Linked DNA regions of Homo sapiens: region 2 is linked to region 1. The links come from fine-mapping of genetic effects on gene expression. Tissue or cell type: testis. Region 1 holds a variant in brackets; the other region holds the start of a gene. All regions are shown on one strand. Distances are from middle to middle.

Region 1 (4,240 bases):
TTTTTATAGAGACAGAGTCTAGCTATGTTGCCCATGCTGGTCTCAAACTCCTGGGCTCAAGTGATCCTCCCACCTCAGCCTCTCAAGCAGCTGGGACTACAGATGCAAGCCACCATGCCTGGCTAATTTGTCTATTTTTTGTAGAGACAGGGTTTCACCATGTTGCCCAGGCTGGTCTCAAACTCCTGGGCTCAAGCAATCCACCTGCCTTGACCTCCCAAAGTTTTAAGATTACAGGCGTGAGCCACTATGCTCTGCCTACTCCAAAGAATTCTAAAAAAGCATATGGAGCCTATGCTTTGTCAAAATCTCAGTTATTAATGCCTAGGAAAGCCAGCTCCACTCTGTCTATGACTTAAGACTCCAGTGTTTATCTGGTGCAGCCTCAGCATAGACACAATTAGTACGGTACAGAAGAAGCCATCTCCTCTGGGCTCTAAATGTCTGAGTTAGCTCAGTTTTTTTTTTTTTTTCAATAGGCAGTAAAAGGACTTTCTGGTTTGTATGTGTGTGGGTCTGTGTGTGTACACGTCTGTGTTTATAGGAGGACTTTAGAAAGGGAGTGAGAGAGAGAGAAAAATGACACAGTTCAAACATAAAATGATGGCTGGGCATGGTGGCTCATGCCTGTAATCCCAGAACTTTGGGAGGCCGAGGCAGGAGGATCACTTGAGGGCAGGAGTTTGAGACCAGCCTGGACAACATAGTGAACCCCTGTTTCTACTAAAAACACAAAAATTAGCCAGTTGTGATGACGCCTGCCTATAATCCTAGCTACGCAGGTGGCTGAGGTGGGAGAATAGCTTGAACCTGGTAGGCAGAGGTTTCAGTGAGCCGAGATCATGCCACTGCACTCCAGGCTGGGCAACAGAGCAAGACTGTCTCAAAAAAAAAAAATGATGCATTGGAGAAGAATTTTGTACCATAAGAAATGGCTTAATCGGGGGAGGCTTTCATATGTTCAAAGTGCACGAGGGCACTAAGACATTTATTTGTTCCTTGACCACTGGGAAGAATTGGATCTTTGCTAATCTCTGGAAAATCTTGATGACCTGGTAATACTTAGCTGTGCAGGACCTCTCTTGTGAAGGTCATAAAAACACTGCCCAAGGAGTGTGCTCAGAGCAAGTGGGAAGCCCAAGTTGGAGAATGGAAATGATGCAATCTCTCATATTGCAACAGTTTTTAGCAATTGTGCAGTGAGATTGCATTATGGTATTCAACCAGCAAAGCATTAGGAGAGAGACCAGTGGAACACTACAGTATTTGCTGGAAATGAAAGCACAAACACATTTGCTCTTGCCTTTTCAAATGTCACAAGTGTATTTTGCCTTGGAGATCAGCTTACATTAATTCTTGAGTCTTGGCTTCCAATTTTTTAGCATCGGCTCCACAAAACTCAAAAATCTGTTCACAAATGCACAAAGGTGAAACATTTATTGATTCAAGTGCTGCGAAAATGTTGAGGCTTTAAGGAATTTTATTCCTGATTGAAAAGTTAAATCCTACTCATTTCCATCATCTGCAAGACACTTTAAATATAAATATACATTAAACACATTAAATTCATAATATTTTCATATTTGGCATCCTTTCAAAATTACTTTTGCTAAAAACTTTGCCAGATCTCTATAATTCTCCATAATATACCTTTAATCTAAGATCTAAAACGTATAATAATCTCGGAAATAAACAAACTCCATCATTGGAACTTCTCAGAGCTCTTATACATTGGTATCGAGGATTTGTCAATTAATATACACAATCT[T/C]CTGAAATCAAATGGCTTGGGATTTGTCATTCCCTGACTTCTCCCCAGGTAAGAGTATTATAATTCATTGATTCTAAGAAGCACATGTTCCTTTCAAATGTTTACATCTCTGAATCAGAATGCATTTCATAGTGGATGGTATGTTATATTTCACTTGGAACACTTCTTAGTGGTATATAAAATAATGCATCTTTTTTGAAGAAAGATGGAATTCAAAGATGGAATTCAAAATATATTACATGGTTGAAGACAAGGAAGAGTGTGAGGTTGGGATTGGGTGAAAACTTGAGTTCCCAGTAAAGGGGCGGTTGAGCCACCAGGAATGGTGTTAGGACTTTGGGGCAGGGGCTAGAAAAGTCTAGAACTAACTTTACTGCCCGGTGTGCTGCAGGGAGAAACCATCCCCACACCAAAGGCTTCTGCTTCTCCAGGCAGCAGCATTCTGCCTGAGTGTGTCATTATATTTATTCCTTCAAAGTAAACCCCAGATTTCTAACTCTAACTTGATCCCATTTCACTTACCAGGTTGCTCATGAATCCACTTCTATAACAGCAAATTATTCTTTTGATTCTTGAGAATAGGGTTACCTAAGTGTGGGTGCAGAATTTCATAATTTATCTGAGTTGCCTGGTTTGTAACCATCTCCCCTATAACTGGTTCTTTTGGCCTTGGCCAGGGAAGGAAGGTGTCAGAAAGGATCTGCAAAAGTTTCTCTTTGCTAAGAGTTAGGTGGCAGCTGGGTGGTGGCTCTTTGGCATGAAGGGAGGTTCATGATCCTCTGCAAAATCTGAGGTCAGAACTCGTGCAAAGATAAGAACGTCTGGTGGAAACATAGGCAAGGCTTGGCTACCTGAATGACCAGACTTGGCAGGAAACATAATAAATTCATTTTGCCTGTTTTTGGACTTTTAAAGATGGATGGCCGGGTGCAGTGGCTCATGCCTGTAATCTGAGCACCTCGGGAGGCTGAGGTGGGTGGGTCACTTGAGATCAGGAGTTTGAAACCAGTCTGGCCAACATGGCAAAACCCCATCTCTACCAAAAATACAAAAATTAGCCAGGCGTGGTGGTGTGCACCTGTAATTCCAGCTACATGGGAGGCGGAGGCACGAGAATCACTTGAACCCAGGAGGTGGAGGTTGCAGTGAGCCACGATCAAGCCACTGCATTCCAGCCTGGGTGACAGAGAGAGATTCTGTCTCAAAAAAAAAAAAAAAAAAAAAAAGGAATATGGTGCACTGATTCAAATGTAATTGTTTTTAAAAAATAGAAAAAAAGAAAGATGGAATTCTACGATATGTATTCTTCTGTGTCTGGCATCTTCCACTCAACATGATGTTTATGAGACTTACCTGGAGAGTGTCACTACAGTCATTTTTCAGTGTTTCTTTGGTATTCCATTGCATGAATGTAACACAGTTTATCCATTTTTGCTGTGACAAATAGTGCTACTGTGGATGTTCTTGTCCATATCTTTGTAGGGATATCTTTGTGAGCACATAAGCACTGATTTCTGTTGTATAGCTAGAAGTGGGATTGTGGGTTCTGCTTCAGTAGAAGCTACCCCACAGTTTTTGAAATTATACTGCATGTATTTTCTTTTTCTTTCTTTCTTTCTTTCTTTCTTTCTTTCTTTCTTTCTTTCTTTCTTTCTTTCTTTCTTTCTTTTTCTTCCTTCCTTCCTTTCTTTTTCTTTCTTTCTATTTTCTTCTTTCTTTCTTTCTCTTTCTTACTCTCTTTCTTTCTCCTCTTTATATCTTTCCTTCTTTTTCTTTCTTTCTTTCCTGTTTCTTTCTTCCCTTCCTTCCCTTCCCTTCCCTTTCTTTTCTTTTCTTTTCTTTTCTTTCTTTTCTTTTCTTTTCTTTCCTTTCCTTTCCTTTCCTTTCTTTTCCTTTCTTTTCTTTTCTTTCTTTTTCTTTTCTTTTCTTTTCTTTTTTTGACAGAGTCTTTCTCTGTCACCGACTTTGGAGTGCCGCAATCTCAGCTCACTGGAACCTCAGCTCACTGCAACCTCAGCTCACTGCAATCTCTGCCTCCCGGCTTCAAGCGATTCTCCCACCTCTGCCTCCCACCACCACTCCTGGTTAATTTTTAAAATTTTAGCAGAAACGGGCTTTCACCATGTTGGCTAGGCTGGTCTCAAACTTCTGACCTCCAGTGATCTGCTCATCTCAGCCTCCCAAGGTGCTGGGATTACAGGTGTGAGCCACCATGCCTGGCCTGCATATATTTTCAATTTATACTCTACCAGCAGAGGATGAGTGTTCTAGCTCTAGCTCTGCATCCTTGACAACACTTGATATTGCCAGTCTTTTTCATGTTAACAATTCTGGTGGCTTTAGGGGACAAGTTTGCTACCAAATTCCATATGTTTTACCTTGGTCAGCTTTCACCTGACTTTAGCAATGGCTATATAACTTGTCTCTTTCGGTCTCCAGTCTTGTGCCACTTAGGTCCTTTCTCATCCCTGA
Region 2 (4,240 bases), 34 kb after region 1:
GAGAGACCTAGTGGGAGGTAAATGAATTATGGGGGTGGGTTTTTCCCATGCTGTTCTCATGACAGTGAGTCAGTCTAAAAATATCTGACGGTTTTATAAAGGGCAGTTCCCCTGCACACGCTGTCTTGCCTGCCGCCATGTCAGACATGCCTTTGCCCCTCCTTCGCCTTCACCATGATTGTGAGGTCTTCCCAGCCATGTGGAACCGTGAGTTCATTAGATCTTTTTTTCTTTATAAATTACCAAGTATTGGGCATTTCTTCATAGCAGTATGCAAATAGACTAATACAACATGCCTGCTCTATAATAGCCTTGACAATTATGTGGCTACTTTGTTTAGTTTCAATCAGGTGAAAGTGATGACTCAAAGAAGATGCACTCTCTTTCTTTATCAATATTCCTCTGGGAGGGAGTAACTAACTTTTCAGAGAACCTTGCCAAGCCTTTATTTCTCACTTGCTTCTGAAGTTGTAAGGTAGATGCTATCCTCACAAACTCCCAACACTCTTCACTTTCCAGTAGTTGTTGTTTGGGTGTGAGCTGGCCTAATTGGACCCATGAACTTGACTTGACTAAACTATCTGAAGGGAATACTCTCATAGTATAGGTATTTATTTAACATATGCGTATTGAGGCCTATACTATGCCAGCTACTGCACAAACTGCTAGGATACCACTGTGGACAAAAACAAAACAAAACAAAACAAAAACTAGGCATTCTGTCTCCATGGAGTTTACATTTTAGAATGGGAAGCTTACTATAAGGTCAATAGGTAATATTTGTAGTATATTAGTGCTAATTGCTAATAAAGAAAATAAAAAGAAAATGAAGTAGGAAGGAAGAATGGGGGTTGGATTACAACTGTAGTCTGGATGGCCAAGGTCAACCTCAAAGAGAAGGTGGCATCTGAATAAAGATGGGATGGAGATCAGGGCCTCTGGAAAGGTCCCTGGGGAGGAGATGAAAGGTCTTCTGAGGGAATAAGGCTCCAGGCTATTCTGTGACATCCCCAGAATATTAAAACAATAAGTGTCAAAAGCATTAGCAAATGTGTGATGTTTCAAAACATGTTCTTATGTCGAAGTTACAGGGCAGTACTCTCTTTCAATCTGGTCAGTGTCATTTTTGTGATCTGTATAGCCACCTTTGGGGAAAATGTCACAAGTCTAAATCTGAGGCTGCTGGTGGACATGAGGCTCAGGCCCCAAACCCCCTCCCCTCCTCCAGCTCTTGACTTCTTGTAATGAGGGCAGGCATCAGAAGGTCTGGGTTCTAATGCCCACACCACCTCTTAAACGAACTAGCCCTGAACCTCTCTTTTAGAGGCAATTTTCTCCTTTATAAATCAAGAATTATCTCTGTCCTATACATGAATTTAGATTTGTTGTGACAGCAACATTGGGCTGTTCCCAATTTTCCCACCCCATTCCACATCTGGGGTTTCTATTATTTTTCCTTGGATAAGAGAAAAGATGTGGACTTCCTTACTTCCATGGAATTTTCCAAGCACAACTGAGGTACGATCCATGGGATCAGATACAGGATGGGATGTACTAGGAGCTGGTCTGGGATTCACCTGAAGTCAGGCAGGAAATAAAAGTCCAGGAGGAAGAAAGCCCTTCTTTATCAATTTGACCCTTGGCTGCTTTTCTTGATAGTACCATCCCTCAAGGAACAAGATAAAGAACAAGAATTTAGAACTCTCCCCTTGCTACAATGCAATGATAGAATACTGGATAGAGAGAACACATTCTTAAAGTTTTTCAAATCTGTTCCCAAGATGTCCACATTTGAAATACTCAGTGAAGCCAAATAAATACTTGCCGTGTCTTTAATAATCTGTACCATGATTACACCAGGGAAGTGCTGATGAAAATCCCCTGTTGGTTTAGTTGGATCACTGTAGCTGTCTCCTATTTATTACAGTATCCTGCCTGGAATACATGGATAACTTCTCTATGACATCATTAAACATGTCATCTCAGAACCTGGAACTTTGGCAGACTTTGGATCCTATTTCACTTTTATGCCATGACTAGTTCATTTGTGGACAGCCAAGAATCAGAAAACTGAGGGCTTTATATGCAGAATCAGTAATGTGTTTGCTTTATTTTCATCTTTTATAACCTATTTCTAAATATCCTTCTCCCTTCTCTAATCCCTCCATCCCATCACCAAATGAGAAGTAAGCAGAGTAATATTAAATAGATGAGATTTTCACTTAAGAATTTGAAGATTTTGCTGTTGAGAAAAATACTAAAGTCTTAACCCTATAATAATGAGTTTCCTGTAAGTTTGATTTCATGAGTCATAAATTCCCTGAACTTTGTTATTTTGCTCTAATTATTTAGAGAGTAAAGAAATGTCACTTTTATGCTCTAGATCAAGGGTTGGCAAATGTTTTCTCTAAGGGAACAGATACTATTTTAGTTTTATGGGCCTCATACAGTCTTTGTTGCATGTTCCTTATGTTTTTGCAACCTTTAAAAAATGTAAAAACCATTCGCAGCTAGTAGGATGTACAAAGAACAGCAGCAGTTTGCTGACCCCTGCACTTGATGATTTGCCATTTTCAGAACTGATGTCAGAAAAATTCTGAACATGACCATGGCCAATGTTCTTCAAATCTACAGAGCAACAAGAACAACCAAAATGAGAAATAGTAGATTCTATAATAAAACAAAAATAGCAAAATCCTTCTTTCTGTTTTTCTATATATGCAGCTCTGGGCCTTCAATCATGTGTTGCATGAAAACTGTCAGATGGAGACAGTGGCTGCCTCTGTAGAGGTATTTGAAGTATGCATGTAACAAAATATCACATGTACCCCATAAATACGTAGAAGTATTATGTATTGATATGGTTTGGCTGTGTCCCCACTCAAATCTCATCTTGAATTGTAGCTCCCATAATTCCCAAGGGTTGTGGGAGGGACCGGTGGGAGATAATTGAATAATGGGGGCAGTTCTTCCATACTGTTCTCATGGTAGTGAATACATCTCATGAGATCTGATGGTTTTATAAGACGTTTCCCCATTTGCTTGGCTCTCATTCTCTCTTGCCTGCTGCCATGTAAGACGTGACTTTCACCTTCTGCCAGAATTGTGAGGCCTCCCCAGCCACATGGAACTGTGAATCTATTAAACCTCTTTTTCTTTATAAATTACCTAGACTTGGGTATGTCTTTATCAGCAACGTGAAAAGAGACTAATACACGTATTAACAAAAAAATTTTTTTTATTATAGTTTAAGTTTTAGGGTACATGTGCACAATGTGCAGGTTAGTTACAAATGTATACATGTGCCATGTTGGTGTGCTGCACCCAGTAACTCGTCATTTAACATTAGGTATATCTCCAAATGCTATCCCTCCTCCCTCCCCCCACCCCACAACAGGCCCCGGTGTGTGATGTTCCCCTTCCTGTGTCCATGTGTTCTCATTGTTCAATTCCCACCTATGAGTGAGAACATGCGGTGTTTGGTTTTTTGTCCTCGTGATAGTTTGCTGAGAATGATGCTTTCCAGCTTCATCCATGTCCCTACAAAGGACATGAACTCATCCTTTTTTATGGCTGCATAGTATTTCATGGTGTATATGTGCCACATTTTCTTAATCCAGTCTATCATTGTTGGACATTTGGGTTGGTTCCAAGTCTTTGCTATTGTGAATAGTGCCGCAATAAACATACATGTGCATGTGTCTTTATAGCAGCATGATTTATAATCCTTTGGGTATATACCCAGTAATGGGATTGCTGGGTCAAATGGTATTTCTAGTTCTAGATCCCTGAGGAATCGCCACACTGACTTCCACAATGGTTGAACTAGTTTACAGTCCCACCAACAGCCCAAAAGTGTTCCTATTTCTCCACATCCTCTCCAGCACCTGTTGTCTCCTGACTTTTTAATGATCGCCGTTCTAACTGGTGTGAGATGGTATCTCATTGTGGTTTTGATTTGCATTTTTCTGATGGCCAGTGATGATGAGCATTTTTTCATGTGTCTTTTGGCTGCATAAATGTCTTCTTTTGAGAAGTATCTGTTCATATCCTTCGCCCACTTGTTGATAGGGTTGTTTTTTTCTTGTAAATTTGTTTGAGTTCATTGTAGATTCTGGATATTAGCCCTTTGTCAGATGAGTAGATTGCAAAAATTTTCTCCCATTCTGTAGGTTGCCTGTTCACTCTGATGATAGTTTCTTTTGCTGTGCAGAAGCTCTTTAGTTTAATTAGATCCCAT

The links. PIP is the estimated chance that this variant, and not a neighbour inherited with it, causes the effect.
Region 2: it holds the start of TXNDC8, and the variant in region 1 is fine-mapped to the expression of TXNDC8 in testis (GTEx, PIP above 0.99).

Annotation. Positions count from the first base shown.
Region 1 is chr9:110,302,177-110,306,416 of GRCh38, forward strand. It overlaps TXNDC8 (thioredoxin domain containing 8), which reads right to left. Exons shown (of 6, transcript NM_001424031.1): 5 at 2,291-2,356; 6 at 1,300-1,407. The coding sequence ends at 1,345. All of the region lies in intron 1 of LOC124902246 (a long non-coding RNA gene), which reads left to right. Among named protein-coding and RNA genes, the nearest start is that of TXNDC8, 34 kb to the right of the region's middle. The variant T/C (reference allele first, on the strand shown) is at 1,769.
Region 2 is chr9:110,335,948-110,340,187 of GRCh38, forward strand. TXNDC8 (thioredoxin domain containing 8) reads right to left here and starts at 1,916. Exons shown (of 6, transcript NM_001424031.1): 1 at 1,826-1,916. The coding sequence starts at 1,849. It overlaps LOC124902245 (a long non-coding RNA gene), which reads left to right and starts at 257. Exons shown (of 2, transcript XR_007061728.1): 1 at 257-2,290; 2 at 2,578-2,695.